Linked DNA regions of Homo sapiens: region 1 is linked to region 2. The links come from fine-mapping of genetic effects on plasma protein levels. A gene starts in region 2. The other region holds a variant in brackets. All regions are shown on one strand. Distances are from middle to middle.

Evidence for each region. A credible set is the group of variants that fine-mapping cannot tell apart. PIP is the posterior inclusion probability: the model's chance that the variant is causal. The UK Biobank Pharma Proteomics Project read protein levels with antibody pairs (Olink). The fine-mapping took linkage between variants from a reference panel, not from the people measured, so its PIPs are less certain.
Region 1: its variant is the best candidate, but not a certain one, in a credible set for the plasma level of the SCRG1 protein (UK Biobank, PIP 0.72).

The regions. Positions count from the first base shown.
Region 1 is chr4:172,440,971-172,443,895 of GRCh38, forward strand. The region is part of intron 5 of GALNTL6 (polypeptide N-acetylgalactosaminyltransferase like 6); the gene reads left to right. Among named protein-coding and RNA genes, the nearest start is that of GALNTL6-AS1, 280 kb to the right of the region's middle. The variant G/T (reference allele first, on the strand shown) is at 1,814.
Region 2 is chr4:173,397,451-173,400,375 of GRCh38, forward strand. It overlaps SCRG1 (stimulator of chondrogenesis 1), which reads right to left and starts at 1,666. Exons shown (of 3, transcript NM_007281.4): 1 at 1,618-1,666. All of the region lies in intron 1 of LOC112268474 (a long non-coding RNA gene), which reads left to right.

The sequences.
Region 1 (2,925 bases), 960 kb before region 2:
AGAGTGTTGAGTCATATTTAGAAATAACTTCCCATTCTAAGGTTCAAAAATATTTCCAAATTTTTTCTCATATTTTATGTTTTCTTCATTAAATTAAACATCTCTTCCAACCTAATTTGTTTTTATATAAGGTATGATGTTAGAATTCAAATTTGTTTTTGCTCCAGCTGGCTACACACATACCAATGTCATTTATTCAACTATCCATCTATTTCACTAAAGGTACTATCTTCAATACTACCTTTACCATATCCAAATATACACTCATTGATATCCAAACAGTAATATTGTCCATCAGTCAGTGACATATTATTTTCATTGCTATAGTTATTATTATTTCTGTAAATCAAGAAATATTGGACAGTTAATCTTTATTATTCATAGATTCCATGTTTCCAGATTCACCTATTCTTTAAAATTTATCTGTAATTTCAATCAATACTCAATGCTTTCGTGGTCATTCACAGAATTAAGCATGCACAGAGCAGTGACCCAGCTGAGGCCCAACAAGATGCTGCTCTGGTTTTTTCAGCTCTCATGCCTTAAGTGTTCTTTATGTGGTTTATTTACTACCACATTTTTGCATTTTTGTGCTGTTTGCTGATGATTTTGCTGTTTAAAATGGCCTCCAAGCAGAGTGCTAAAATGCTGTCTTATATTCCTAAGCACAAAGAAGGCTGTGCTGGGCTTAATGAGAGAAAAATCCGTGTTTTAGATAAATTTCGTTCAGGCATGTGTTAGAATATGATTGTCCCTAAGTTTAATGTTGGTGAATCAACAATACATACATCCAGAAAAAGAAAGAGGAAATTTTCTAATCTGTACATGAAACTACCCCAGCAAGTGCTACAGTAACGTGTATGGTGTATGAGGGAGCTAGGGAAGACGTGGAAATGTGGCTCAATTTGTAGTTTCATGAGATAAGAATTGATTTTTTTTTAAGTGTAGTTGATAGTATTGTTGCAAAGCTGAAAGCCAAAGAAATTTCCAGTCACATTATCCAGCATCAGGGAAATGATAGACCCTTCTCTGCTAGTTTTTATTACAACAAAATCCATATATAATTAGTTATTTATAAGAAATATATATTAAATAATGCATTTTTAAACACATATGAAACAAGGTTATGTGTTCATCAGTTGATGAAGATGTTTTGATCAAAAGGTCGCAGGATCCTAACCTTGTATTTCCCCTTGGAACATTGACTCAGTATTCACTGATTCAGTGTTGACAGCAACTTTGTAGGTCACAACTACTATGTCCCACTCTGAGTTTTCTCACTTCTCTGTTGCCTTTGGAACTGTCTCATTCTCATATTTAAGTTCTGGGATATTGCTGGTGATCATCTCGATCACCTGTATATTTGTTTCTCACTTCTTCTGGGGGGAGTGAAGCCAGCTTGCTTCTGCAGCACCATATTGAAACCAGAAGTAAGAACAATATTAATGTGAAAAGCAAGAATCATTTGTACTTAAATTTTATAAATAATGCTCAATAAGTATTTAGACTATACTTACGGAAATAATCTGTATGTTAGATAAATTTTTTTACTTTTGTAATTCCTTACTCTTATAAAAAAAGGATTTCTTAGTCTTGTAGCCTTTAAACTCAACAAGAAAGGACAACAAGAAAATTAAATGCTCTATCCCATCAGCTTATGTCGTATTCCGCTCATGCCTTGCTTACTCTAAAGTGAGACTATAGTCAGAAAATGAGTCCATCCATTCAGTTACCGATATATTTCAAGGCTTTTCTGTAAGTTAAGCACTGCACTTGTTACTTGGAATGCAAATATCAGTATGATGTGCTATTT[G/T]CCATTAAGATCTAGCAAAAATTGTTATTTCAATTGATGGCAGGGAATTTCAAAATAACATACGTATTTTTAATGAGAGAAAAAAATACCAATAACATTAAAGCAAATAGAGATGATATCACAAGGAAGCTTTGCAAGCTACTGAGTTTTCTAATAGTACAACATGACTAAGGGGATTTTATCTATTGGTGACTTTAAAGTTCTAACTTATTTATTTACCTTTAAAAAATATTTTGGTCTTTTTCATTCTGATTGTAAAGCGATATTATGTTCAACATGGAAACTTGTAAACATTGACAAACATGAAGGAGAGAAATCACCAGTAATGATCCATATACATATATATATATATATATATATATATATATATATATATATATTTCTTTTTTTTTTTTTTTTGAGACAGAGTTTCACTCTTGTCCCCCAGGCTGGAGTGCAGTGGCACGATTTCAGCTCACTGCAACTTCCACCTCCTGGTTTCAAGCGATTCTTCTGCCTCAGCCTCCCAAGTAGATGGGATTACAGGTATGCCCCACTATGCCCAGCTAATTATTGTATTTTTAGTAGAGACGGGTTTTTACCATGTTGGCCAGGCTGGTCTTGATCTCCTGACCTCAAGTGATCCACCCACCTCGGCCTCCCAAAGTGCTGGGATTGCAGGCGTGAGCCACTGCGCCCAGCTATGATCCATATATATTAACAATTAAGTAGCTAAACTTATTTAGTACTTAATACATAAAAAATCCTGTTCTTGGCTTTCTTGTATTCATTACAATACCCTAATAAAGTAGTAATATTATAGCCCCTTTTTATATGTGAGAGATATGACTGAGAACACAGGTGATATATGAAAAACAAGGTTTACTATGAAGTCCAAACAATTTTTACTTTACTACTTATGTGATATCAGTAGCATCAAATGTTTTATGCTATTTTTAGTATTGGGGGAAATAATCTGGTAAAAGCTATTAAAATTTAAAAATATGTTTATCTTTCAACACAGAAAACTGAAAACCTATATATATGGGATCTTTATAAGGACACTTATTCCCTCCAAGGAAAGGTGTGGCCCGGATGTTGGGAAACTAGATAAGGACCTTGAACTTTACCCA
Region 2 (2,925 bases):
TTATCCATTTTTTTAATTCGATTTTATGTAATTAACATTGTTCCAAATGTTGTATGATACCATTTATATCCTAATAGTGTTGTAAGTTTTAATAGATCATTGCAGAGGATACAGGATTATGAGCAAGACATTTCCAACTAAACAATAAATCATTGCTACCATCCTTTGGTAGGGAGTTGCAAATTTTGATTCTGTCTGAGGGCATTTAGCACAAGCAAGCTTTTGAATGGCTGGAGCTAAATGGAGACTTAAAAAGAAAAATTATCCCATTTAATTGCCAAAACTAACAGGACCATGCAGTTTAAGTGTTCAGACATTTATGGTGCAAATGCTCATACAGGCAGCTGATGTCAGTTCTGGGAACTGGTATTAAGAGCAGTGGCATGAAACAGAGTTGATGAATTAGACAGAAAAGACAGTCCATTTTCGGATTGCTTTCAAAAAAGCAGCAAGAGAGAAGCAAAGCTGCAAAAGCAAATGAAAACTCCAGCCCAGAACTTGACATTTGAAATATCAAAATTATAGTTGGGAGAGATTAAAATTGCTGCCCAGTCTGTGATGTTTTCCACTCATCTCTCTTGGAGGATGAAAATCACTGTTTTTTTAAAGTTCTCTTTTTTTCTTATTAGCTGCCTTAGAAGACGTTTTTGTTAGAATGACTGAGTCCTTAGAAAATGTTTTTGTTAGAATGACTGAGTCCCAAAGTGAAATTTCCCAAAGTATGTGTTAAAGAACAGAAGCAGTATTAAAAAGTGAATAAGCTGCTTAAAGATCCTTAAAACAGACATATCATCTTAAATATCTAAGATACCTTCATCCATAGAAAAACAAAATCCACATCCTCCCTAAAAGTGATCAGGCTTTTAGAGCATGCCAGAAGATGATATTAATATTCAGTCTTGCATCATTCTCCTTCTTTTCCTGGACACAGTAAATCATCATCACTGGAGAAAAGGACCAGCATTTGGGAGAGCTTTTCATAGCCTGTGTAATTAAGTTAAGGAATTTTAAAGAGGAATTTTTCTAAGTCTCAGAGGGAAAAAGTGTTCTCTTTATATTAGCAGTACAGACACTGTTGTGTTCCAAGAATGGACACCAAGGATGAATTCAATGAATTCCCTCTTTGTATCACACATTTGTACCAGGTTCTTTTCAGAAATCAGGATTTTTAAAAGCAAAAAACATTTTCTTTCTTAGATGTTGCAGTTAACTTCATGTAGTGTAGGTAATATAGCTGCTGCATTTAAAACAATCCTATATACTTTATCATCCTCACATAGTTCTGAGGACTGGGATAAGTCCTGTTGTGTGGGACAACATTCAGAGTAAATTTGGGCATTAAATAAATGATAGTGAAGAATCTGCCTCTTTTTAAACCTGTAATGAAATGACTTTCCTAGTCAAGAAATATACATTTTCTGTTCTTTTTTAATCTGATTATTTGCCTTTCTACTAGGAAGCATCATATTTTTCAAAGTGCCTGCATCATCTCCTCAGAGGATCTCTGTCTTTCTCTTCTGACTCAACACATACATACATTTCTGCTCTAATCTACAGTAATACTTTGGAGTAGAACAACTGACATAAGATGTTTTTTATAGAGAAAAAATTACATACCTTTTTCTTCTTTCCTTTTGGTCTTGGCAGAGGATGCTTCTTAAATGCTCACACTCACTGGGTGAGTTTGGGCAAAAGGAGAAGAGAGGAGGTGCTGGAAGGAGCTTCTTTACAAATGAACCTTTGTCTGCCTTGTCTCTGGCCTGGGATCGACAGACTCGCTGCTCCAGCCAGGACTGTGGGGAGGAGGGGAGTGGAAGGAGACAAGGCTGCAAGGACTGCCTCCTTTGGAAGTGTTCAGTTTGTTCCAAACCAGGCGAGAACGAATAGAACAGCTTCTTTACAGAGGGAAATAACTAGTCTATACAAGAACCTCAGGGAGGCAGACTCTGGTAGCAATAAAACATAAAACCTGAGGGATTTTAAAAGAACACAGAGTGATTTTTCCCTTAAGAAAAGTGTGTGTGTGTGTGTGTGTGTGTGTTTGTGTGTCTGTGTGTGAGAGAGAGAGAGAGAGAGAAGAGGAAAGTGGGGAATGGCTAGCTGCGCACCTCTTCCCCTTTCACAGTTTTCCTAGCCATCTAGATCTGTTACAAAATCCTGGTAGAAGATACGTTCCAATTCACCTTCCATTTCTCACCCAAAGACTCATTAGTAGTCAATGGAAAGCTAAAATGATGACTAAAAAGAAATGTATTCTGTGCCTTAGAAATAAAAGCACAAAAGAAATTTTATTCTGTTTTCAGCAAACTATACTGGAATTCTAGCATCTGTTAACTGTTGTTTAGGTTTTTAAAAAATTCGATTAGGAGTAGTGTTTTGGGAATTAGAGATATTATATTGTAATGGAGTTGGAATTATCTAGACAGACAATTGAGGCAAGGGCATTCCAGGTTGAATTACAAAGGCATGAAGGTGAAAAAGAGGGTGACAACTTCGGAGATTATAGGTGGTTTCATTTGGCTAAAACCAAAGGTGGTAGGAGATGAAATTTGAGAGACAAGAAGCAGCAAATTGATGAATTACCTCATATGCCATGCTAAAAAAATTGTTTTTATCGTGAAGATGAATGGAAAGATGATGAAAACATATTAAAAAGGATGAAAAGCCTGACTGCAGTGTGAAAGAAGGATGGTTTCCTGGGAGGAAAGGAGACTAAAGACAGAAAATACCGGCTTTTGCTGTAGTCCAGAAGGGAAGATAGGAAGGAAAACTGAAAAGACCTGATGACCACTTAAGTGTTTATGTTTAGCATAGAGATAGGAAATTTTATTAACTTTCAAAGGCTTGGGCCTTTGGACGATGATACTGTTAATCATCTAGAAAAAGGATATAAAAGGAATAACTGTTATTCATCTAGGAAAAAGA